Linked DNA regions of Homo sapiens. The protein of the gene in region 2 interacts with the protein of the main gene of each other region in a pairwise test. Each region holds a gene or a part of one and is shown on either strand. Other genes may lie near its edges. The genes, in order: SMAP2, CRX, SAE1, CTNNA3, SOX10, SOX3 and C1orf50.

What was found.
Region 1: the proteins of CRX (region 2) and SMAP2 interact in binary tests that used the Homo sapiens proteins (3 or more experiments, as listed by UniProt).
Region 3: the proteins of CRX (region 2) and SAE1 interact in binary tests that used the Homo sapiens proteins (3 or more experiments, as listed by UniProt).
Region 4: the proteins of CRX (region 2) and CTNNA3 interact in binary tests that used the Homo sapiens proteins (3 or more experiments, as listed by UniProt).
Region 5: the proteins of CRX (region 2) and SOX10 interact in binary tests that used the Homo sapiens proteins (3 or more experiments, as listed by UniProt).
Region 6: the proteins of CRX (region 2) and SOX3 interact in binary tests that used the Homo sapiens proteins (3 or more experiments, as listed by UniProt).
Region 7: the proteins of CRX (region 2) and C1orf50 interact in binary tests that used the Homo sapiens proteins (3 or more experiments, as listed by UniProt).

What each region holds. Positions count from the first base shown.
Region 1 is NC_000001.11:40,411,727-40,415,226, reverse strand, and holds part of SMAP2 (stromal membrane-associated protein 2), read right to left. Parts: intron 2,212-3,500; coding exon 2,125-2,211; intron 1,069-2,124; coding exon 987-1,068; intron 1-986.
Region 2 is NC_000019.10:47,820,582-47,824,736, forward strand, and holds the start of CRX (cone-rod homeobox protein), read left to right. Parts: upstream 1-1,355; 5' UTR 1,356-1,429; intron 1,430-4,155. UniProt on the Homo sapiens protein: Transcription factor that binds and transactivates the sequence 5'-TAATC[CA]-3' which is found upstream of several photoreceptor-specific genes, including the opsin genes.
Region 3 is NC_000019.10:47,203,835-47,207,334, reverse strand, and holds part of SAE1 (SUMO-activating enzyme subunit 1), read right to left. Parts: intron 1-3,500. UniProt on the Homo sapiens protein: The heterodimer acts as an E1 ligase for SUMO1, SUMO2, SUMO3, and probably SUMO4. It mediates ATP-dependent activation of SUMO proteins followed by formation of a thioester bond between a SUMO protein and a conserved active site cysteine residue on UBA2/SAE2.
Region 4 is NC_000010.11:65,912,023-65,915,195, reverse strand, and holds the end of CTNNA3 (catenin alpha-3), read left to right. Parts: 3' UTR 1-2,673; downstream 2,674-3,173. UniProt on the Homo sapiens protein: May be involved in formation of stretch-resistant cell-cell adhesion complexes.
Region 5 is NC_000022.11:37,981,756-37,985,732, forward strand, and holds the start of SOX10 (transcription factor SOX-10), read right to left. Parts: upstream 2,801-3,977; 5' UTR 2,584-2,800; intron 2,114-2,583; 5' UTR 2,030-2,113; coding exon 1,602-2,029; intron 1-1,601. UniProt on the Homo sapiens protein: Transcription factor that plays a central role in developing and mature glia.
Region 6 is NC_000023.11:140,502,485-140,506,474, forward strand, and holds SOX3 (transcription factor SOX-3), read right to left. Parts: upstream 2,586-3,990; 5' UTR 2,577-2,585; coding exon 1,236-2,576; 3' UTR 501-1,235; downstream 1-500. UniProt on the Homo sapiens protein: Transcription factor required during the formation of the hypothalamo-pituitary axis. May function as a switch in neuronal development.
Region 7 is NC_000001.11:42,777,249-42,779,991, reverse strand, and holds the end of C1orf50 (uncharacterized protein C1orf50), read right to left. Parts: 3' UTR 501-2,743; downstream 1-500.

The DNA.
Region 1 (3,500 bases), on a different chromosome or scaffold from region 2:
CCATGCCTTCCTTCTATTCTAGACAAAAAGCAAAGGTGGCCCATAAGCTCATGGACCTAGAAATCTAGACTTCTGGAACCATCTAGCATGGACGGGGCTTCTCAAAAGAGGCTTCACCCCACATTCCCAGAGTGCTCTGGGGAAGCCTGTAGCCCAGCTATCAGGCACAGGGCAGCAGACGCCCAGGCCTGAAGGGTATTTCAGCACCACAGTGGGGGGCTGGCTGGCTCCCTTCTGGCTATTTGAAGGGCAAGGTATGGAGGAGGGTTCATTTTCAGAGAGCAAGGAAAGGTACAGAAATTAGAAGCCTAAGTAGCCAATAACCTCAATCAGCAGAAGCGGATGGAAACAAAGTGCAACCATCAGTGCTGTGAAAGGCAGACAACAGGCTTTCTTTCTGAAAGGGCAGAATCACTAGTTCAGGATTTCAAAGGTTTGGAGAAAAATGACCACAGGCCATCTCAGAAACAGGTTGCATCTGAAAAATGAAAGGAATGGGGGCAGGGAGTGGAGTACAGGGAATTGACATGAGGCTCAAAGGTGCTGTTTAGCAAAACTGCTAACATTTATGGAGGGCTCAGTATGTGCCAGGCATGGGGCTAAGAGCTTTAGAGGCATTATCTCATTTAATCCTTCCAACAACACCTTTGAAGTAGAGACTCATTCTCACTGCACGGATTATGAAAGCAACATTCAGAGGTTAAGTAAACTACCCATGGTCACACAGACAGTAAGTAACACAGAGCGACACTGGCTCCAAAGGCCATGCTCTTAACCACTACACCACACTGTCGCTCTGAAAAGTGTCACAGTAAACACTTCCTTAGAGCAACTGCTCAGATGTAAAACAGATCAGGAAGAATGTGAGAGAACAGTCTTGGCAATGAAGACAAAACTGGAGAACCCCATCTCTACCTATCTTCCAGGGTCACTGAGAATTTATCAAAATTTGTAAGAACATGGAAGCTGAAAAGTCCAACTCTTACCAAGGCCCAACAAATCCATGACAGGCGCTGTGGATTTCGGGGAGCTTTTCCGAGGTAGCTGTGGGTCTTCTTTTTTCTGTGGCTAAGGTGAAAATATGTTATAGCAAGAAATAAGCAGGTGGTTTTGAACTCTTTTCCCATCTCCACTGTAAAGCCACGGTGTTCTTGTGGGTAGGGCTGCTGTTATTCAAAGAGAGTTACCAAAGAAACAAAACTCAGGAAGTATTAGGTGAAAGAATCAAGTCAGGAGGCAGAAGTGCATAAACCAAACCTAAAATGAAAAACAAAGATATCGCCTGTGATTGTCTGGTGTCCTAAAGAGACAGATCTTTCTGAAACCAAGACAACCACAGAACAGGGGATCCAACAGAAGCAGCAGTTTTTGGTCCCAGGAAAAGCCAAGAATAAAGGTAGGTATCTGATGGTACAAGAGCCAAGAGCCAACAAATCTCCCAGTGGTTAGAAAACCTTTTACTTTAACACCAAAAGGGAGGTTGGTTTAAAGATTACCTAATTCACTCTGCCAGTATCACTAGTGATTGTGTCCACAGACAATGTGATTCAGAACGATGATAAAAGACTCTTCCTTAAGCAATAGTAAGTAAAGTCCTCTCTCCCAAGATTCCAAGTTTTTATGTTAGAGATTCTACTACTACAGCCACAATATGTCCTGTGGAAAAAGAAGGGTGTCTGTTTCAACATGACAAAGCAAGAACATAAGAAGGGATCACTTAAAATGGACTAATATGGCCTCACTTCTGGACTGTTCTTCATTGAAATCAGAAAATGGGATACAGAAGGTCTAACAAGAGAAGGACTAATGTGGAAATAGCATCTGCTCAGATGGTGTCCCTCAGCCTTGGCATTCTGGCTTGGAATGTGCCTCTTGCTTAGATGGAACAGATGCATTTCCTGAGTTCTCATCTGGCCCCAAAGCGAAGCCCTTACAGAGCAGATTTAGGCAGCAACTGGTAACGAGAGAGCAGAAATGATAGCAGGCAGTCCAATCCAGATGCAGAACCCTTTAGCCCCAGCTGTGATGGTGCAATGGTACTCACCACGAGACCTCCTACTTTCCCTTTCACAAATATACACATACCTGAGGCTGTCCATACAGTGCAAATACTTCCCAACTTACCATTTTCACCTTCTCAAAAACAACAGGTTCCAATTTTTTTTCTGGAACTGGTTCGCTCCCTCTTTTCCACTTGTCATCTTTTTCTTTCTATAATGATTTAACAAGACAAAGAACACAGGGCCCAAGGTGACTAATAGTTGGATAAATCATAATTCCAAGTGTCCGAAAAGGACACCTCCAATCCCTATTGATTCTGACGTAAGTGTCTGACAAGCTTGGGGGGCGGTGTCTTGGTGTGGAGCATGAGAGTTGACCTCTTCCACATTGGCCTCAATGCTGTACGAGGCGTCTTCCAAACACCTTAGGCGCCCGCCCTCCTAACCCACTCATGACTGTTGACATTTGCAGTCGAGGCTATGTACAGACGCTAAAACATTTTACCAGTATGCTGCCCACCTGTGCCCCAAATTTAATTTGCCCATGCTTTGAGAGGTCTCCCCTCATATCAGTATACTAGTGAATAAGTTCATCTTACTCAGCTTATGTCCTTTGTGATATCATAAATTCAATCATAGGTCCTCTCAATATTCATTTTTTTAACAGTCAGAAAATAAACCTTAATTTCAAGTTTACAGATTAGAAGAACAAAAATTAAGTTTTAAAATCAAATAAACATCTAAATGTAAAACAAAACCACAAAGTAACCTTAAGAATACAGAGTATAGCATACATATGAAAAACATGTTTGGTCTTGCCAGTGATAAAAAATGCAATTTAAAATGCACTTTATGCAGGGAGAAAGATCTTTCTATAATGGTGGGAGGGATGAAGTGAAACCAGTACTCTTATACAATGCTGAGAAGAGAGAGTAAAATGGTACAAATTCTGGAAAGTATATTGGCAAAACTAGGAAGAGACAAATGTTGAAATCCTTTGACCTAGATGATACCATATCTTGTAATGTATCTTACGAAAATAGTCCAAAATATGAAAAAGGTTAAATGCACCAAGTTCACCCCAGAATTATTTATGCTAAAAAAAATTAAATAACATTTATGCCACAGAAGGGAAATGGTAAATAAATTATTACTTTCAGTGATTTAGCTACTCACTGAAAGATGATGCAACAATTAAAAATTATAAACACTATATAAGCAACACAGAAATATATGTTAAGTGGAATGAAGGCACGAGAAGTCTACATAACTGTATTATAATTATGCCTCCAAAAAGAAACTATTTAGAAAAAAAGGGGAACACACCAAGAAGATAATTATTAGCAAAGATAGTGAGAGTATGTATGGATATTTCACTTTAATTTTCATTTTCTCTAAAATAATTTTATAATCAATACATGCAGCTGTTTTTCTCATACAAAGTGTATGTCTTTAACACGACATTTCATTTAAGTTAAAAATGTTTTATCTGTCCATTAT
Region 2 (4,155 bases):
AGGATAAGCGAGGACAGAGGGACAGAGATGAGGCTGGAGTTACAGGGACAGGTGGACAGGCAGAAAGACAGCAAAGGGAGGGACAGACAGACAGGAACAGAAGGACATGGAGGCTGAGGGAGAGGGGAGAAAGAGCAAGATAGACAGGGAGACACAGAGAAAAAGAATAAGAGAGACCAAGGGGATAATGCAGGTTTATCAACAGAGACAGGGACGGAGAGGAGCAGATGGAGAATGAAAGAGTGGTATTCAGGAAAGTAGGCAGAAATGCCACAGCCTAAGGCCCACAGGAAAAGAAACTGAGGTACAGAGAAGCCAGACAAAGACCAATGGTGTGTAGAGAGATGGTGAGTGCTGGGTTTGTTGGCTCACGCCTGCAATCCCAGCACTTTGGGAGGCCGAGGTGGGAGGATTGCTTGAGGCCAGGAGTTTGAAGCCAGCCTGGGCAACATAGAGCGACTCCATCTCTACGAAAATAAAAAAATTAGCTGGGCATCGTGGTATGTGCCTGTAAAGTCTCAGCTACTGGGGAGGCTGAGGAGGGAGGATCCCTTGAGCACAGGAGGTCAAGGCTGCAGTGAGCTGTGATCATGCCACTGCACTCCAGCCTGGGCGACAGAGTGAGACCCTGTCTCAACCAAAAAAAAAAAAAAGGAAAAAAAAAAGAAAAAAATCCCAAACCCCAAACTCCACCAAAAACAGAAAAACAAAACACCCTTTCTAATAAGTCTGCCTATTTTCAGTGCTGGAAGCAGCCCCTGCCACCTCCGCCCCCAAAAAGAGGAGAATATCATGTCTGACAACACAGAGACAGAGAGGCCACAGACAAGACTTGACCAAGTCAAAGAGAGAGAAACAGGGGAAACTGAGGCAGAAACCGAGACCAATGAGGCACTACAGAGATAAACTAGCTGTCGGACAGACTGTTGTGGAGAGAAAGGGGGACCCAGGAGAGGGATCCCGAAAGCTCCGTGCCTCTCTTTTTTCAGACGATCTCTCAGGACCATCTGACAGTGCTCTCCTTCCTCTTTGATGCCTCTCTCTTGGGATACTAGCTGAAGCTGGAGAGACACCAGTTAGACCTAAGGAAGGACTTCCCTGAGGAGTAGGGGCTTATGGTCACCGGCAGGAGCTGGGGCCTCCCTTCCCCATCAGCCCTAATTGCCAAGATGTCATGGGGGGAAGAGGAGGGGATTAAGCAGACGGGTGCCCCTCCCCCTCCCAGCCAATGTCACCTCCTGGTGCCCAGTCGAGTCCCCCACCTTGGCCGGGATTACCCTCCGAGTTCCAGGCCATGACAAATGACATCACTCCCGGCCCAGGCTTAAAATCTCCCCATGTGAGGGGATGTGTTTCCTTCAGCCTCTGCTGTCTGGCCGCTCTGTCTAGGTCCTGGGCCACGGGAGAGCCCCGTCCCTCCTTTCTGAAGGTGAGCGTCTGCAGGAGAGGCGGAGGGGACCGAGGAGGGGAGAAAAAAGAGAGGGGAGAAGTTGGGTTTATCTTATTCGTGGCTGTGTTTGCCGTGCTCTGCAGGTGATGTTTGCTGAATAGTCACACACAAAACAGAGGTGCCGTCCTGGCATTTGTGGAAACGGGGCTAGGCTGTGATTGCAGCAGGAGGGAGTAAGGTTAGACAGCAGGGACTGGCTGATGGCACTCGGGGCATTGGGAGGATTCAGGGTGGCTTGTGGGCAAGGGGGTCCCCTCAAGCCCTGACGGCATCCGGGGTTGGGGGCTTCTCACCGTGGTTCTAAGGCAACTCCTCAGCATACCGCTCTGTTGGATGTTCTTTAAAACTCTTAGCACTGCCTGAAATTTTCATTTGCGCGATGATCCACAAATGGCCTGTCTCCCTCCCTTGTTGAGCACTGATTTTTCCCCAGTGCCCAGCGTGTGGTTGGGATTTGCCTAAATATGTGTTGCATAGATGGATGGATGAATGACAGACAAGGGACGGAACAGACATATACGCAGAGAGCCCAGGTCTGTGGCTGCAACAGGAAGAACTCCGGGTGGACTTGGGCCTGCCCGAGAGAGCCAGGAATGTGATGACTGGGGATCACTGTGCTGGTGAATTGATCACTTAGGGCCTCAATGCACCCAGAGGCTCTGGCTTTCAGCCCAGGCTCTACTTCGGGACTGGGGAATCCTCACGCCCCCGCCCTCTTAGCTTCCAGCACAGTCACTCTCTCTGATCTTCTTTCTGCAAAGTTTTTTTTTGTTTGTTTTTGAGATGGAGTCTTGCTCTGTTGCCCAAGCTGGAGTGCAGTGCCACGATCTCCACTCACTGCAACCTCTACCTCCTAGGTCCAAGGAGTCCATCCACCTCAGCCTCTTGAGTAGCTGGAATTACAGGCGCGTGCCCCCATGCCCAGCTATTTTTTGTATTTTTAGTAGAGATGGGGGGTCTCTCCATGTTGTCCAGGCTGGTCTCGAACTCCTGACCTCAAGTGATCAGCCCGCCTGAGCCTCCCAAAGTGCTGGGATTATGGGTATGAGCCTCTGCGCCCAGCCGGTCTCCTGCAAAACTCTTGATTGACACCTTGTTTCCCGTCTGCCCCTGTCAGGAGGGCTGAGGCCTTGTCTGTCTTGCTCTCGGCTGTATTCCCAGTGCTTGGGTCAGTCCTAGACACACAGTGAGTGCTCAGTGAATATGCAGGGAATGAATGAATGAATGAAGGGCAGAAGGGTAGAAGCAGGTAGACAGACTGCCACAGAGAGGAGGTGTGATGCGGTTTTCCCAAAAGGAACGAGCGAGGGCTGTGATTGCCACAGAGTGAGGTCCGACTTCAGGGCTGCCCACTGTGTGTGAATTTCTGGATGCTTCAGGGATCACATTGTTGATCACGGAGTTGATTTGCTCAGGCTCTAACTGTGCCGTGGATCCCAGCTTCCCCCAGGTCTCATGGCCGGCAGTGGGTGCATCCACCCAGCTCCTTGTCCCCGCTGGACAGAGGAGCCAACAGAGGCTGCAGAGAGAGGCTGGAGTGGCTGACAAGGGAGGGCCCTGAATGTGGCTGAGCTGGGAGGGTCTTGCCAAGGGCTGGCATGAAGCCACATGAGTCTGGTTTTTTTTTTTTTTTTTTGAGACGGAGTCTCACTCTGTGGCCCAGGCTGGAGTGCAGTGGCATGACCTCAGCTCAGTGCAACCTCCACCTCCCAGGTTCAAGCGATTCTCCTGCCTCAGCCTCTCAAGTATCTGGGATTACAGGCGTGCACCACCATGCCTGGCTTATTTTTGTATTTTTAGTAGAGATGGGGTTTCACCTTGTTAGCCAGGCTGGTCTCAAACTCCTGACCTCAGGTGATCCACCTGCCTCGGCCTCCCAAAGTGCTGGGATTACAGGCGTGAGCCACCACACCCGGCCGAGTCTGCGTTTAAATCTTGTTCTTTTCTCACTGTGTGGCCTTGGACCCCTCATGTGGGCTCTCTGGGCCTTGGTTGCCTCCTCTGCAAAGTGGGGACAATGATAAGCTGTCACCATGATCCAGCCAGATGAGCCATATTGCAGGCCTGGCCTGCAGTGGGAGCAGGGCAGGAGACCAGCCTCATTCTGTTTCTAGGGTCCCTAGGTAGACTTGGGGGTGAAGAGCGGGGCTCGGGGGCCAAAGAGATTTAAATTTTACCCCTGGTTCTTCCACTCATCACCTGTGTGACCTCGGGAATTGACGAAACCTCTTTCAGCCTCAGTTTCCTCCTCTGAGAAAGGGACCTCTGAGCTCCGTGGGGCTGTGGGGAGCATCCTAAGAGGCCATATCGCCGGGTGATCAGGAGGGCACCGGCTCCGGGGCAGGTGCTGGCCCAGCTCTGGCTCTGCCGCTGACGTGCGAGACAGAACTGGAGACTACACTTCTCTCAGCCTCAGTTTCCTTCTCTGTAAAGTGGGGATGATACCAGAAGCCGCCTGGGAGGAAGTTTCCATGGAGTTACTGTTGCCTGAGATCTTGTTCCCAAGGTCCATGGTGCATGCAGTGTGTGAGAAGCTGGGGCCCCCTGGAGGTCCTTAAGGTCATCAGCCACCTGAACTGTGGGCACCTCCCTCCCTCCCAGGCTCAGTCTCCCCCGCTGTAGAATGGAGTTATCTGCATGTCTGCCCCACCAGGTGGCTGTGAGCATTCAGACCTCACCTGTGGGAACAACTGCTCAGCTGGGAA
Region 3 (3,500 bases), 620 kb from region 2:
ATCCATAAAACAGGGACAATCACATCTACCATATACAAATAGTGTTAGTCAGCCATTTTTCCAGGGAAATTTTATTTATTTGTAAATGTTTTTAATTTTTTGAGATAGGATCTTGTTCTGCTACCCAGGTGGGAGGCACATTCTCGGCTTACTGCAACCTCCGTCTCCCCAGCTCCAGATATCCTCCCATACCCTCTTGAGTAGCTGGGACTTTTGTAGAGATGAGGTCTCCTCATGTTGCCCAAGCTAGTCTTGAACTTCTAGGTTCAAGCAATCCTCCCAAAGTGCTGGAATTACAGGCATGAGCTACTGCACCCAGTCAAGGGAACATTTATTAAGCATCTACTCTATGCCAGGTATTCAGCTAGACATTAAGGATTCTGAGGTCTCTGTCCACATGGAGCTTGGATCAGAAAGAAGTTTGCTTCTCTGGGCAAATAGGCAAATAAAAAGCACCTGCCTGCTAGAGTTTTGGTGAGAATGAAATGTGACTAGGCTTGTAAAGTGCCGAGCACGTAGTAAATTCTTAGTAAGTAGGAGCTGCTATTAATAATAATAGGGCCAGGAGTCCTTTACCAATACTGGGGATGCCACCAACCTAGCCAGGTGGAAGGGTCCAACAGTACACAGGTGGAACTCTTAGACCCTCAAACCCAAGATACAGGAGATGGTATGTGTTTTACCATGAACCTGGGATGGCTGCTGCTTTCACTATCACCTCTCTTACCATAGACAGGGAGACCTGCCGTGGACGGTGGGGATGGAGAGAAAGGAAAACTGCTTTAAACCCAAGGAAGTAGACATGGATATAAAATAGGGTATCTAGAAGGACGTAAGAAAGGAAAGACGCAAAAGATGATTCCAAAGGAGCAGACTTGCGCTTGACCCATCTCCTAGTGTAAGCTTTCCATAGGCGCTCAGACAGTGCCTCAGGAGAGAAAGGTGAGTCTGAGGCCCTTGGACTGCAGGCCCCGCCTGCCAGCTGGCTGAAGGCTGACCAGTAATAAGTATGAAGGAGTACTGGGGATGAGAGCAGGGCATGGGGTGACATGGGGCAAAAGGTAAAGTGCTTCCCAAGCAAGATGGGGTAGGAGGAGATTCCAAACACACCCAGCAACGAAGAATGCAGAGTACTCTGGCTATCTGGGATAAACAGAAACAAGATGCTGGGCACCAGCTGTCTCCAGCAGGCAGGAAGGAGGGGGCTGTGTGAGGATGGGGATGTGAGAAACTACCACCAACAATGGGGTCAAGGCTACCTGCCCCAACCTCCAGTCTCCATCCCACATGAAAAATTTAGGGGGAGCCCCTCAATGGGATGTGCAGAAGTAAGGCTGACAATGCAAGGGCAGCGGCCCTGGGGTCCATGCAGTCTCTACATGATGGTGCCATTGAAGGCAACACCTGATGCATGACTGCCCCGTGGTGAAGAGGACAGGCTCAGAAACCAGACTGCCTGGGCCCACATCCTGGCACCACACTCACTAGCCTGGGCAAGCATCTTCTTTCCTGCACCTTAGTCTCTCTTTTATAAACCAGGGATCACAGGAGTTCCTACCTCATAGGGCCGGTGGGAGATGAAATGAGTATCCACGTAAAAAACACTGTCTTTGTGTGGCAGACAGTGGGCTTTCAGTAAGTCTTGTCTATTATTGGTGGTGTCGTCATTTTAGGCTACAAAAATATGTACATTCCCATTCCCCACTTAGAACATTCCCATTGCTGCACTCTTTCCTGCAGTTTGTCTACAGGGAGCCTCAGAATCCTGCTCGAACAGTCCTCTGGGTGGCCATTACCCTCTTCTCAGATTGGGCATATAAACTGTAATTTTCACATCACTCTGGGCTATGTATAAAATGTGAGCAAGGAAAGAGGTATGGCCATTGCACACTTTTCTTCCCCCTCCAAATATCTCCTCGGTGCCCATTACATAGAAGAAAGTTAGATTTGATCAAAGGAAGAATTTAGACCAGAGAGAAGGATCAGAAAAAATAGACAAAAAAAAAAAAAAAAAGTAGCCTTAGGAAAACGGTGTGACTAACAAATTGAGCCAAACGCCTCCAGAATGTACAGACCCCAAGACAAAGTGTTAAGGGCTGGCCTCCAAACTGTCCTCCCAAGCTCAAACTTGACATGTACATGGACATGGCCAATCATTTAACCAGGCACGACTCTGCTCCATAAGAAAGAAGGAAAAAGCCTCACCGGAGTCCACGAAGGCAGCCAAGAACCTGCAAAAGGCAAATTTAACATCTTCGGGCAAATAGCAAAGTCTGCAAAGAATGTACAATATATTTGGGGGTATGGTATAGTTTTAGCAACCCAAATGTTCCAGAAGACCCTCAAAAGGCTGTGCTAGTTACTGGTTATGTGACCCTGTATAAGATGCTTCCCTTCTGAGAGACACACTAACACCTACCTAACAGGGTCACGGGTCATCCTGTACAGAGCCTTGAGGGGCTCCTGGTGTGTTCATGGGGACACAGAAACTGATTTCTCTACAAATACCTACAGTGTGTGGTTAAAAAGACGGGGGCTTGGCCGGGTGCGGTGGCTCACACCTATAATCCCAGCACTTTGGGAGGCTGAGGTGGGAGGATCACAAGGTCAGGAGTTCGAGACCAGCCTGGCCAATATGGTGAACTACTAAAAATACAAAAATTAGCCTGGTGTGGTGGTGGGAACCTGTACTCTCAGCTGCTCGGGAGGCTGAGGCAGGAGAATCGCTTGAACCCAGGAGGCGGAGGTTGCAGTGAGTCAAGATCATGCCACTGCACTCCAGTCTGAGAGACAAAGTGAGATTCTGTCTCAAAAAAAAAAAAAAAGGGGGGGGGTGCGGCTGGGTACAGTGGCTCATGCCTGTAATCCCAGCACTTTGAGAGGCTGAGGTGGGCAGATCACGATGTCAGGAGATCCAGACCATCCTGGCTAACACAGTGAAACCCTGTCTCTACTAAAAATACAAAAAAATTAGCTGGGCGTGGTGGCAGGCGCCTGTAGTCCCAGCTACTTGGAAGGCTAAGGTAGGAGAATGGCGTGAACCCGGGAGGTGGAGCTTGCAGTGATCTGAGATCGTGCTACTGCACTCCAGCCTGGGGGACAGAGCGAGACTCCATCTCAAAAAAAAAAAAAAAAAAAAAAAAAAAAGGGAGGGCTTTGATGTCATGGTGATGAATAGAGATAAACTGTACAGAGGTTAAGAGCACAGGTTCTGGAGTCCCTTTCATGGGCCCAAGTGTCTTCCTCTTAAGTGGGGATCATGATAGTACTCACTTATAGAGCTATGAGAAGCAGAATCCCTGACCAATACAACAGGCACTGGATAACTAATACAGTTAGGGGAGAGCAGATCACACCTTCGAGGCACTATGGCCAACTGTGAGCTAAGCACAGAGCAGGCACTCCAAGGTCATTTGCTGAATGGCACCTGGATGGGCCAGAGAAAATGGGATGAGGTGGAAATGGGGAGGGCATGAAACAAAGATGAATGGGGTGAGAGA
Region 4 (3,173 bases), on a different chromosome or scaffold from region 2:
GAAATTCTTCCCAATATTAGAGCCAATCTGGGTTACCATACGTTCATATATTTAACAGCTATTTGTTAAACAACTGTGATGTTCCAGGCACTGTTCTAGGTTCTTAGGATACACCATATAACAAAACAAATAGTGATCCTTGCCCTCATGTGCCAGCTCTGTGTTAAATGCTAACTATTATCTTATTCAATCCTCCAAATAACCCTATAGGATATATATCATTCCACAGACAAGGAAGCTGAGGGTTAAATGGGATAAGAATCTTGCTCAAAGTCTCACTGGCTTTAAAATATTAATATATATTTTACATCATTCAAGACAGATATATAATTAGCTGAATATTCTCACCTCTATTAACTGAATGTAGAGTGTCAGGTACATGGGAAGTAAGTTATTTACGTGATCTGAAATAAGAGGACAACCTTTGCCAAATTACTTTTATTACCATGGAGAAGAAAGCTTCAATGAAATGCCTGTTTCAGCCCATCTTCAGTATTGGTTGGTTAATACCATTTGTTAACACCAATCCTTTCCTCTTTTACTGCTAACATGTGACTGTGTTTAAAATTATAGATTGCAGCAGAGTGTTGGCCAAGGATTATTGTAGTAGGATAAAGTTTCCCTGTATTTGAAATTTACCCAAACTGTAGCAAATACATCTTTCCTTCTTTATGGAGGTCACACGTGTGCATAGTATGTGCCTGAATACAGGTAAACTTTGTGTTTTAAAATTACATGGCCTTTTTTAGAGTCGACTGAAGGCTAGACTCTTCTTGCCCATGTTGCTGGATAGGCTTTCAAATCTCAGGCCTTGGAGAGTTAAATGACTTTCTGATATTTCTTACGGTGGAGCCACATAAGAAATACACACATTCCTAGTTTGAGCAATGGATGTGTATATTGGGGATCTTCACTTTTATGTATCTGGTAGTCATGATGGTGCCTATTCCCAACTGTAGGAAAGGAAAGCCCTCAAGGAGAAAATTCTCTTTCAAAAAGGCTCAGATTTCTAACAATTATGTCTAAATGTTTCTTCAATTTAGAACATGTACAAAAGCTACTTAATATTAGCAGAGTAGTTCTTGTGTTTTCATTTCAAATGAAATATTCCCAGTTCCAAAGTTTATTTCCTTGGCATTTTCAAGAAGGATGGTTATTTTTAGTTCTGGTTATTTGGTGTTGGAGGTCTGTGACACTTCCTTATACATTTAAAGCCCCCTTTGAATAGTTGTATCAATAGTTCAAAAGCCTGTAGATATCTTGCTTTTCTATTCTGACAGCCCAGCTTCTGCAGACTCAGGCCAACCTTAGGTATGTCACATCAGTTCCCCATCTGTGTAAATTACCTGAACCTCTCTGTGGTATTCACTGAGAGTTGAGCTTCTACTAAGGGATTTCCTTGACCTGGGCTTTTAACACCAGATTTGTAGTGGAGTGTTTATTAGTAAAGCAAAGGAGTAAGTCAGAGATGCTAGCCCCTGCTCTCAGTTAAACAGAACTATCCTCCTTCCTGAATATTTAAACATAAAATTAATTTTAAACTACTATAAAAATCATGTTCCATTGCTTGCCAAATCTTATACCATTATAATGCTGTATTTTTACATGTTAGTATACATTGTGTCCATAGGGATATAAATATGAGAATTTCAGCAACTGTCTTGCAGGGTTAAGATGTGCTATTTGTTGATTTTGCAAATTTTTCTCATGTGGTACAGTCCCTCCAAAGAAAATTTCCTTAGACCTAAATGGTAGCATAATAATTTCTCCTCCATATCCGTGACTAACAAGTTCCTGAAAACAGAAGTAGACATATTTTATGCCCAATTTAGTACCTAATAATTGAGGCTTAAAACAAAATTTTCTTGGGCAAGTTGGGTGATTAAATATGAATTAAAACTTCTAGAGAAAGATTTCCAGATGCCCCTGTTTTCCATTTTGATTATGGTTTTAGTTTCATAGCAACTTGGGGGAAAAAAATCATTTACTTTATGTCGTATTACAACAACAACTTTGACAGCTTAAATGTAGTGACCTCTCTGAAGGTAATATGCACATTATAATTTAGGATGAAAGCAGATTTAAACTAAGACTTTCTGAGATGAAATAAAAGTAACCAATTCATAATAGTCATGTTTATTGCAGCAATATCTTGGGAACTTAAGTTTAGTGGCGTTTGAGGTGTTTCTGACTATCTTGCTTGTTCATTTCACCCTGCTCTGCAGAGACAGAATATGATTGAATGAACTGCCCATTATATTAATGACCAGTTCAAAGCAGTTTTGTGCTTTGGCTATAGATAAAATTTGGCAAAAATACTGTAGGCCTTTCTGGTCCATATTTATCCTTAAAGTATTTTTGCCAATCAATAAAAATGAAATATTTATCCAGAAATAGAAAAAGCTCTTTCCTATGACATTGACATAGAAGCCCAAATACTCCTTGTTTGAGACCCTGCATGTCTTTTGTGTTTAACTGAATCAATGATTTTTTTTAGTTGTGCTCTTAATTGCATTATTTCACATATGTAACACTGGGTTTGTTTTGGTTATATAGTATTATTTTACTTTATTCTAATTTCAACTCATGTCACTCTGTAGCTCATTAAGAATTTGTTCAACTGAAAATTAAAATGTGTGTTAAAGCAATAAAAATGAAAAGATTGGCTATGCATTTTATGTTGATATTTGGTGGCGGATTTCTTGGGTGGGATGAAAAAAATGGAGATTAATAAATTGCTGAGTAGTCCAACCATGTGTTTCTAAGTGTCACCTTCACTCTCATCCTCTTTCAGTTTTATATTTATAATTCAGGAAGGCACTTTTCCAAACTACTGCATGCACACAAGTAATCTGAAGCATATCTGATAGAATTAAATTCATAGTCTAAATGAGCATTTTTGGTCTAATACAGGCACTAGTCTTGGGCATTAGACATGCCTTTAATAGTTCTGTGTAGCTCAAGAGTTGTTCTTTAGCTTAGGACTTTATGAAAATGATCAATAACTTTTCTGAGAATGTCCGAACACATACTCCCTAGTGGTCATGGAATACCATTGGTTCTACCAATGCTCTTGTATCTAAAAATTGGTGGGTTTTTAACATCCATCTTGGCCTCCTCATTTTTAGGCTGATAATAATCCTTTCTCAGTATGAATCCCATGGGGTTAGCCT
Region 5 (3,977 bases), on a different chromosome or scaffold from region 2:
GGATGGACCTTGGGTGGAGGAGCTAGCTGTGACCTCTGCTCTTGGGCAGAACTGGGCTGTCTGGGTCCACACAGCGGGCTGGTCGCTGAGCCCTGGGCCTGCCCTGGGTGAGCAGGGCACTGAGGGCTGAGAAGGGGCAGGGGAAGGGGCACCAGGTCTTCAGCAAACACATGGCAAGAACAGGCCAGGGGGCGGGATGTGAATCTTTTGGTCTCTTGGAGATCCTCCTGCACCTTCTACCACTCTAAGCCTCTAGACCCAATCTCTACCCAACTGTGGCTGGCAAGGGGGAGGGCAGCGGAAGAGAGCCGGGCTCCTCTGACAAAGCCCTAATTTTCTGGAACCCAGATGCTCCTCACTCTTGTTCTCATCTTCTTGCTTCCCCCCAACCTCCTGACCACTCCTCAAAGTGTAGGTGATCCACCACTGTCACCAGGGTCAGGGGAAGTCCTCTGGACAGAGAGTATGGGAGTCCTGGGTTCTGGCCCTGGCTCTGCTACCAACTTCTATGTGACCTTTGTGATTCCTTTGCCTTTCTGGGCCTGTCTCTTGGTCAGTCTAGCGAGAATCAGGTGACTGCTACCGGCTCACATCTCCTGGAGTCCCTGGTCTCTTTCAGAGCTGCTCTGGCACTCCCGGGTGGGAGTGGGGGACTGTCTTGTTCCACACATCCCCAGGAGGCCTGGCTGAACCCCAGACCTGAGTCGAGGGTGGGATAATTGCTCCCTGCGGGGGATGTTTTTCCTAGAGGTGTGGGCTGGTCCCAGGGAACCTGGGACTCTGAGGGCCCCTGGGCAGGAAGGAGGCCAAGGTTTCCTTCTGGCCAGAGTGCTCAGCTCCAGCTCTGGGGCAGTGGGGAAGAGGTTGCTCAACGTTGGGGTGGGGCCCTGGCAGGGAAGATGGCGCCGAACTGGGAGAGGGAGGAAAGAGATCAGCTTGGTGACTCTGGGGCAGGGCAGGAGGGGGAGCCCCTTACTGTGTGTCCTCTCCCTAGGAGGATGAAGAAGCCCCCAACTCAAAGGAGGGTGGCGTCAGAAAGTCCCAGGGAAGAGCCCTAGGATAGGATGAGGTCCCGCAGCAGCAGATTTGTCCCGCAGTTCTTCATCCCTCACTCTTCCAAAGACTCTCATCTGAATTCCGTTTTCTTTAAACCTCCCCTGAGTTCTCCATCTGACTGCCTCAGTTTCCCTGAATCTCCAGCCAACCCTTTGGTTCTTTCCAAGCGTTTCCCTCGTATCCTCCTGACCACAGCAGCTGGTGGCATAGTGTGCGTATCTGTGGGCAGGAGTTAGTGAAGGCCTCCTTCCCTCCCTCCAAAGCCCCAGGCCCCACGGTCTGCCACCCGCAAAATTCCAACCACGAGGGGGCGCCTTCCTGCCCGCCGCCCCGTAGGGAGACCCGGCCTAGGCCGCTGGAGTTCCGAGTTCCAGGGTCCTTGTGATGGAAGGGCGGGCGCGGCCCCCACACCTGGTCTTCCAGCCCTATCCAAGGAGGACTGCCAGACAGTCCCGCTCTGAGGTGCAGGAGGCCGGGCCGCCTCGGCTACCCTGAATCCACCCGAAGCTAGAGGGCCCGAGCCCGGGGGGCGGTCGGGTGCTCACCTCCAGAGCTTGCCCAGCGTCTTGCTGAGCTCAGCGTTGTGCAGGTGCGGGTACTGGTCCGCGAGCTTCCTGCGCGCTGCCTGAGCCCACACCATGAAGGCGTTCATGGGCCGCTTGACGTGCGGCTTGCTTTTGCTGGCGCCGTTGACGCGCACGGGCATGGGCACCAGCGTCCAGTCGTAGCCGCTGAGCACCTGGCTGACGGCCTCGCGGATGCACACGGGGAACTTGTCATCGTCCGCCTCGCCGTCCTGCTGCTCCTTCTTGACCTTGCCCAGCTCGCCTGGCCCCGGGCTGGCTCGCAGGCCCGATCCGCCGCCGCCGCCGTCGGGCCCTAGCGAGGGCGCGCTCCCCGGGGACAGGCAGCGGGGCTCCTCCGAGCCCACGGGGCTCAGCTCCACCTCCGATAGGTCCTGCTCCTCCGCCATGTCGCCCCCGGCCGCCGCCGCCGCCGCCTCGGCCGCCTCCCCCGGGCCAGCCGCCGGGGTCCTCGCAAAGAGTCCAACGCCCACCTGGATGGAAGGAGGGCGCGATGGAGCGGCCGCGCGCGCAGCCCCGAGGGCGGCCCGAGACAGGACGTGGGCACAGCCCCGAGGTGGCGGCCCTTCCTGCTCCAGCTAAACCCATCTGGCCCCTGGGGCCCACGCACATGCCAGACTCTAGGTGGGTGCGTCCCGCCTCTGTGTCTTCCCACCACCTGGTCCCAACCGTCTCTTGGTGTGGGTGGCTTTTTTTTTAGCCTCCTTTTTTGGGTGGAGGTTTGTTGATGATAAGGAAGAAAAAAACGGAGCCTTTATTTTGCTCTAATCCCGGCCCCTGGAATTTCCCACCTTTTCTCTCACCTTTCCTTCTTCCCTCAGCCTGCCCCAACGGGGTTTAGAGGAGAGCCAGGTGGGGGGCAAGGGCGGGGTGTCGCCTCTCTCCACCTCACAGCAGGGTCCCAGGCCTGGGCGGGCCAGGGAGGAGCAGGCTGCGCACTCACCTCCTCGGACCTCTCCTCCAGTCTGGGGCTCGTCCTTAGGAAGTGGAAAACCGTGTCCCAAGGTGTGCGGTCCAGCTCGGGGCTGGGAGGTGACGCTGGTGGGCTGGGAGGGAGGGGCGGGGGGCCCTGAGCCTCAGGCCACGGCCTCGTTAGGACGGAGCCTGAATCCTTACCACCAACCACCCTGGCCGGACAGCCCGAGACTGACTGAGCGACTGAGCCTGAGCCGCTGCGGAGGGCTGGGGAAGGAAGGAGGGGGAGAGGGGGGAGGGGAGAGGAGGGAGGGAAGGGCAGAAGGTGGAGCCTCCAGGCTTTCCTTCATCCCCAACACTCAGGGCTCCTCCACCCGGAGCCCAGGCCCCCCCACCCAGCTCCCTGCCCTACTGCCCAGGCCCATCTTGCTGAGGCTTATCTTGGGCTTAGTCTGGGAGGTGGAGGGGAGGTTAGGCCGAGGAAGGAAGAGATGTAGGCTGGAGGGTCAGAACCTGTTGGATGGAAGAAAATTGGGCCCAACCAGGACTCCTAACGTCTGCCTCAGGTGGCAGGATGGGCACTTGGCAGGGGACTAGGGAGAGACGTGAAGGCGGTGAGGGTCCTGGGGGCCCGTGAGGGTGGCTGGCCCTAGCTGCTTCGTCTGCGAAATCCTGTTGAGTGCCTAGTGTGTGCCAGGCACTGATGCCCAGCTCCTCACCCTGCCTCCTACCTTTTCCCAGGCAGCCCTTTCTGCCCCATCCTGCACAGTAAGAGAGACTTCTCAGGGATCCCTCTGAGAAGTGCAGAGCCCCAGCTTGACCCCTGGTCCCTTCTCTGCAGACACCCAGCACACGCGCGTTCTGGTCTGGTTCAAGGTGGAAACACAAGACTAAAGCTGCCAGGAGGCCAAGGTGGGACAGGTTGGGGGCCCTCTCTCAGTAGGTCTTAGAGGCATTTTGGGTTGCTACCTACTGGGACCCAGCTCCTTCCACACTGGGCTCACCCTGTCTTGGGAGAGGGTAGGGGAGTCCTAGTCCTGATTGTCACGAAGTCCTCTACTCCCCCACCCCAACAAGGGGTGGGGACTTGCCCTGCCTCTTCCCTCCTCTGCCCACCTCTCCCTCCCTCCCCTTTTCTTTCCTGCCCATCCTCCGTTGACACCTTTTTCTCTCTCTTTCCTTGGCCTCTCCTCCAAAGGTCGCAGTGCTGTTCTCTTAACTGAGGGCAGCCCCGCCGGGGTGTTGAGGCCGAGGTGGGGTGTATGTGGGTTATGTAATGGAGCTGGGGTCGCATTGGCAACCATGTGACGTTCTGAGCTCCTCAACAGCAGGGCAAAGCCCCAAGACCACCCCAAGGGGTCCTGTCTGGAGTGGGCTGCAAAGGGTCTGGGGAGGCAAGGCCTCATGCTTGGGAAAGTCCAA
Region 6 (3,990 bases), on a different chromosome or scaffold from region 2:
ATCCCTGTAACCATTTATTTTTAATAGGATCATCGAGATTTCCGAAGGGTTTTCGTTTTGTAAATATTTCAGCTAGGCTCAAATGTCTTCCCGCCCCAGTGCACAAAGGTAAAAGTGCCCCGTTTTTGGTCGGTTTCAGCGGCCGCGCCTTTCCAGCCCCGCCTCGCGTGGCTGCGGCAGCAGACACTTTCAGCAGACGCTCACTGCGATCAACAAGTGCGCGGCCGCGGGCTCTGCGCATTAGCTACTACTGTGTGCCCGCTCTCGGGAGACGCTCCTGGAAGACTCGGAACTCTGTTCCGAGTTTCAGTTGAGAATATTGGAAGCTGGTGTATGGTGGATCACCAGTAGTTAAAAGGAAACCATTTCAGATTATGCTTGCCTCCCCCCAGGTCCCACCCCGCCCCTAGGATGGGATCTCAGTTGTAAAACCGAGTGTTGGTTCCTCCCCAACCTGCAAAAAAGTTTCAGGGCCGCAAAATTATCAGGACTCCATCATGTTGGTTATAAAATTTATTGATCTCATTTAGGAATTAAGAGTAAAAGCTTGAAAACCCTGAAACAAAGTAGCCCCTCCCCACTACCCAAACGAAATCTGAACACATTAGCGCGAAGAAATATCAAACAGATCACGGCAGAAATCACCAACTCAACATGATTGGACAGAAGCTGTCCCGCGGCCAGGGGCGGCGAGGCGGGAGACACACGCACACCTGGCTATAAATTAACATTGGCTTTAGCTGCCGCGCTGCTTGGAGCGGTCAGCGCCCCAAAAAACCACGAGGAAAACAGACGCGACACGACTGGGGGCGTAGGCGTTGCAGTTCTCCAGCTGGCCTCACCCGATACTATGTTTCTCCCATTCACTCCTTGGCTAACTGCAAACTAACAAGACAACATTTTCAAATGTAACAGAATAACCCTGGAACTCAGGAGGAGGAGTGGGGGCTGTTTTTTCTTTGCAAATAACACAGCGATTCCCAGCCTACAAAGGTGAAAGGAGCAGCGGCGTGGGGCAAGAGAGCTCTCTAGAAGTCCCATTTTCGCTGCTCCTGACTTATTTTTGCTTTTGTACAAAACCCGACAGCTACAGCAAAACTTTCAGCCCTCCCCATCATCGGTACAAGGCAACAGTCCCAGGCAAGCAAAGCTAAACAAGGCGTCCCAACTTGGGGGTGCGGGGCGGGAGTGGGGGTGGGGGTGGGGAACAAGGGTGGACGAGCGCAGGCCGGTGCTCAGATGTGGGTCAGCGGCACCGTTCCGTTGACTGCAGTCCCGGCGCCCTGGTAGTGCTGGTGCACGCCGTGCAGGCGACCGCCGGGCAGCGGAGAGGCGGCGTCGGCCGCGTCCCCGCCGGGTGGCAGGTACATGCTGATCATGTCGCGCAGGTCGCCGAGGCACGCGCGCTGAGAGTGCGATGCGATGGCGGGCGGCGGCGAGCTGGGCTCAGACTTCACTACCGAGCCCATGGGGCCCAGGCTCATGGCGGCTGCGGCCGCAGCTGCGGCCGCGGCGGTGGCGGGCTGCTGCCCGTAGGCGGCGGCCGCGGCTGCTGTGGCTGAGGGCGCCATGCCCCCGTAGCCCGAGGCGGCGGCGGCCGCGGCAGCGACGTTCATGTAGCTCTGAGCGCCGGGCGGCATCATTGGGCTGTACTGCAGGCCGGCCATGTCGTAGCGGTGCATCGGCGGCAGCGCGGGCGGCGGCGGCGGGCTGCTCATGCTCGGGGGCTGCGCGTAGCCCAGCTGCTCCTGCACCAGCGAGTACGCGCCGTTGGCCCAGCCGTTCACGTGCGTGTACGTGTCCAGGCGCTGGCCCACGCCCACCGGACTGCTGGCGGCAGCGGCTGCGGCCGCGGCAGCGGCGGCGGCGGCCGCGGCACCGGGAGGCAGGAGGCCGCTGGGCAGGGAGTACTTATCTTTCTTGAGCAGCGTCTTGGTCTTGCGGCGCGGTCGGTACTTGTAGTCCGGATACTCCTTCATGTGCACGGCGCGAAGTCGCTTGGCCTCGTCGATGAATGGTCGCTTCTCGGCGTCGGTCAGCAGTTTCCAGTCGGCGCCCAAGCGCTTGCTGATCTCAGAATTGTGCATCTTGGGGTTCTCCAGGGCCATTTTGCGCCGCTGCCCGCGGGACCATACCATGAAGGCGTTCATGGGCCGTTTCACACGGTCCTGGTCTGTACCCCCGCCACCTCCGCTCGCACCACCGCTGCTGCCGCCGCCCGAGTTCGCGCCGCCGGCTGCGTTCGCACTACTCTTGCCTGCGCCTCCCGGGGCTGCGGGGCCGCCGGTGCCCGCCGCTTGTGTGGGTGTCCCTACGGGGTTCTTGAGTTCAGTCTCCAGAAGGCTGTACATTGCCGGGGCGGGAAGAAGGTGCGCCAGCGTGGCGGGAGGAGAAGGCGCTCCCGGGGCTGGAGCGGCCACGGTGAAAAGGCCCTGGGACTCCGTCGGAGCGGAGCTTGGGGGCCTGTGGGCCAGCGAGTCCGGCGGGAAGGGTAGGCTTATCAAAATGCTCCGCGCCAAATCAGCAGGAACCCGCGGGCTTCTCGCACCTGATGAGTTCTCTCGAACAGGTCGCATTCACAGTCTGCCTGGGCTCTAGCTGGGCCCCTTATATACCTGCTCGGATTCCCCGGGGTTGGGGCTTGGTCCGCCCCTCGCAACCCGGAGGACCCGTGATTGACAGGTTCGCAGTGATGCGCCCTGGCCAATCATTACCGAGCCCCCGTTCGGCCTGGCTGGAAAAAAAAAAGTTCGGGGAGCCCTTTCGTTCACCCCACGCCCCTCTTTGGCCTAGTGACGTGGTAAGAGTTACTTAGGAGGCGGGAGTCCACGAGGCCCACTCAGAGGCCACCAATTAGGGTTTCAAAAAGTTTGAAAGAACGAAACCTGAGGAGGTGACGGGGGGAGGGGGGAGGGGGCACGCAAGCAGATTGGGGGGAGGGGGCAGAGGGGCGCCTTCGGAATTTAGAAAACAACTTTGCAACCCTGTCAAGGCAGACCGGCGCCCCATCCCCCGGCCAGCCCGCAAAGCTTCCCGTTGTCTGCACGGAGGTTTTCTGGCCGCTTCTGCTGCCAGCGCTAGGAACGCAGGGCACCACCAGCTACCCAGGCCGGCTTAGGGACTCCAGGCTCATTGGAAGTGCTCCTGGCTGCGTCTCCAAGAAGCTCTCCCTGGAATTGGCCGCTGGTTGTCCAGATCTTTCTCTAGGAGGGCCAGTGCGTCCAGGACGCAGCGTGGGTCAGGGGCCCGGGCATGGGAGACAGGCTTCAGGACTGCGGGGTGCATTCGGCTGTGAGGCTCTTGGGGGTTTGCAGGAGGGCGGGCAAGCAGTCAGTCGCCCGTCTCCTGAGCCTGTCGGAGGCGCTCGCACAAGGTGGTGTGGAAAGTATGTGTGGGACGTAGGGGGTGAACTGGCCTCCGCTCTCTCGATCCTGGCCCCCGCTTAGCGGCCCCTTTTTGTCTCTGCTCTGTGGCCATTTCGGTTTTTCCAGTCCGATGCCCCTGAGGGGGAGGGTCGGGCCCCTTGGAAAATCCGTTTTCATGGCAACACGGAGCCTCTCAGAGTGAAAGAAAAGTTTCTTGGAGGGGGGAACGTTGGCCGGAGCGGAGCCGAGGCCGTCCTCCGGGCGAACCGCCGGGCCCCCTCCACTGCCCCCGCACCTGCCGGGACCGCTGAGCGCTACTCTGGGCGCGCAGCCTCGCCGCCTCCCCCGGGAGCAGGCTCTGCTAACGGATTCCGTCCGTCTCTTTTATTGTTTTAGAGACTTCCTGAGATTCGGAGCGGGACATTCACTTGCTTGTTGGGTTATCTGCCAAAGACTAGCGGCGCGGGAACTCTGGCTGCGGGGAGAGGAAACCCCGATAATCGCCACTGCCAGCTGAAGCGAGTGGCACAGCGTTTGAAACTCTCGGAGCAGCCCGAGGTAGCGAGTGGGAATGAGAAGCCATCCCGGCAGATTTGGCAGAAACTAAAATAAGGTGTCCATACGG
Region 7 (2,743 bases), on a different chromosome or scaffold from region 2:
ACAGGACTGTGTCTGAATCTGACCTCTACCACTTCCCATCTGTATAACCACGGGCCAGTTTCAGAATCTCTGAGATGTTCCTGCTGTGTAACATAAGAATACTATATACCTCATTGATGGTGGGTTGTGTGAAGATTAAAAGAGATAATGGATACACTTAGCAGAATAAAGGCTCATAAGACAGTAGTTATCATCTTTGTATCTGTAACACTAATACTCTTCATGTTTGTGGACTGATAACTTGAGAAAGTAAGATACAAGCCAGCTCTCCTTTCCTCCTTCCAGAGCACTAGGGTAGAGAAAGGGAGCTACAGTCAGCTGTTACTCACACCCAGTAATTTGGTAAGGGCCAACAAGGTAGATTATCAATATCACAGAGTATCACTGATTATTCTGGAAAATAACAGGGATATCCTCCTCCTCCTGAAAATTTTGTTGAGGGGATCCCCACTATTCAATGCAGACACTCAAGCCAGAAATTCAAGCATCATCTAAGAGTCTTTCCTCTAATCCCTCTGACATTTTATTAACAAGATGGCAATCGATTGTACTTTCAATGTGCCATGCTTCATCAAATGTAAGATGCTATGTTATGATTCTTTTTTTTTTTTTTTTGAGATGGAGTCTTGCTCTGTTGCCCAAGTTGGAGTGCAGTGGTGCAATCTCGGCTCACTGCAAGCTTCGCCTCCCAGGTTCACGACATTCTCCTGCCTCAGCCTCCCGAGTAGCTGGGATTACAGGCGCCCGCCACCACGCCCGGCTAATTTTTTGTATTTTTAGTAGAGACAGGATTTCACTATGTTAGCCAGAATGGTCTCAATCTCCTGACCTCGTGATCCGCCCGCCTCAGCCGCCCAAAGTGCTGGGATTACAGGCGTGAGCCACTGCGCCCAGCTTGTTATGATTCTTTTATGTAGCTCTAAGAAAGAAAAAATGCCACTTAAACTGTGACATGCCATTGACTTTTAGAAGTGTCCAAGTTTGACAGACACCAAAATGTGGGGGGGGGGGGGGGGGAAGTACACCTTGTAATTGGTGAAATACAGGCCCTCTCATTCTACTACTGCTTAATTCAGACTCCCATCATCCCTTGCCTTGATTAGGGATGGAATCTCCTGTCTTCCCTCTACCCAAACTCTGCTGCCAATATTACCAGCCTCCCCAAATCCTTCCATTAGTTCTTCTCTCATATTCCCCAGTCCATATTCTCCTGTTTAACTGGCTGCGATTCCCCAAATGTCGTGTCAATTCTGGTCAATGTCCCTTCCATGTTATTTTTTGTCTGGAATGTTTTTTCCTCCCTGTCTTCAACTATCTCCTAGCTTTTAAACACAAGGATTTTCTAGCCAGGACATATCTCACTCCACCCCTCCTCATTGCCAGGACTGCTTTGGTTGATATGGCTTAAATGGTTGTCACTTTCTTCATTCACAAATAAACTCCATCCAAAAATGAACCCTACCCCAACCCCCAAAAGACAAACTTCCTATGAAAGGGCAATTGGAGCCTCCAGAAAGTTCTAACTTGTATGGTTTTCAACACCAAGCAGGCATCAGCTCCTCCAAGTGTCTTCCCAAATTCTCCAAGCTCAGTAAGGAACCCCTCCCCGGAGCTCCATAGTATTCCATGCGTACCTCTATCACACCCCTTCTTAGAGCATCTTGTAATTGTTAACTTGTTTCCTTCCCTACTATACTGTGAGCTCCCTGGAAATTGTGATTTCTTATTCAGCTCCATTATTCACCAGAACCTGGAACCTAGAAGGCACTTAACACTAATGAAATTATCAGGTGAACAGATGGATGGGTAAATGAAAAGTGATTACTGTATATAATCACTGGGTCCTAGTTTCCCATTCTGAGGTGCCCCAAATCACCTCACATTGCCACTAGCCCTTCCCAAGTGTGGTAACTGGCTTAACCAGGAAAGAGCAATGACACCCCTTGGTGGTCAGTGCAGGGAGTACATCTTACTGAACAGAAGGCAGTTTCTCTCTTTTCAATCACTACTCTCCCACTCTTTAGGTTAGGAAATGTCAAGAGTGAGGGAGATTTGGCATTTTCAAATGATCAAGCTGATGACTGCATGCAGAATGGATTGGAGAGGGGACAGAGGGGGAAGCAGGGATGCCAGCTGGGAGGCTGTCTTGTCAGAGTTGACAGTCAAGTGCAGATCTGTGACTTTGACATCATCACACTTAACCACTTAGTAATATTGCCTTTTTTACCTAGAATTTTCCTTTCTTCTTCTCAACTGAGCACTGTGGCAGATAGATTCTAGGATCTGTTCAATGATTCAATGATGTCTGCCTTCTGGTATACATGCCTTTGTATAACTCCCTCCCTTGAATATGGGCTAGCCTAGTGACTTGCTTCCAACCAAAAGATTACGGCAAAGGTGATGAAATGTCACTTCTGTGATCAGACTACATGAGACTGTAACTTCCATCTGGCTAGCAGACTCTAATCCTTGTTTACTTTGCTTAAGAAAGCTGCCATGTTATAGAGGCTCGTGTGGCAAGGAAGTGAGGGCAACCTCCAGCCAACAGTCAGCTAGTGGAACCCCGGAAGCCAGCAACCCTTGTGGAATTGAAATTCTGCCAACAGGCCAGGTATGGTGGCTCAAACGCCAGCACTGTGGGAGGCTGAGGCAGGTGGATCATGAGGTCAAGAGATAGAGACCCTCCTGGCCAACATGGTGAAACCCTGTCTCTACTAAAAATAAAAAAATTAGCTGGGCATGG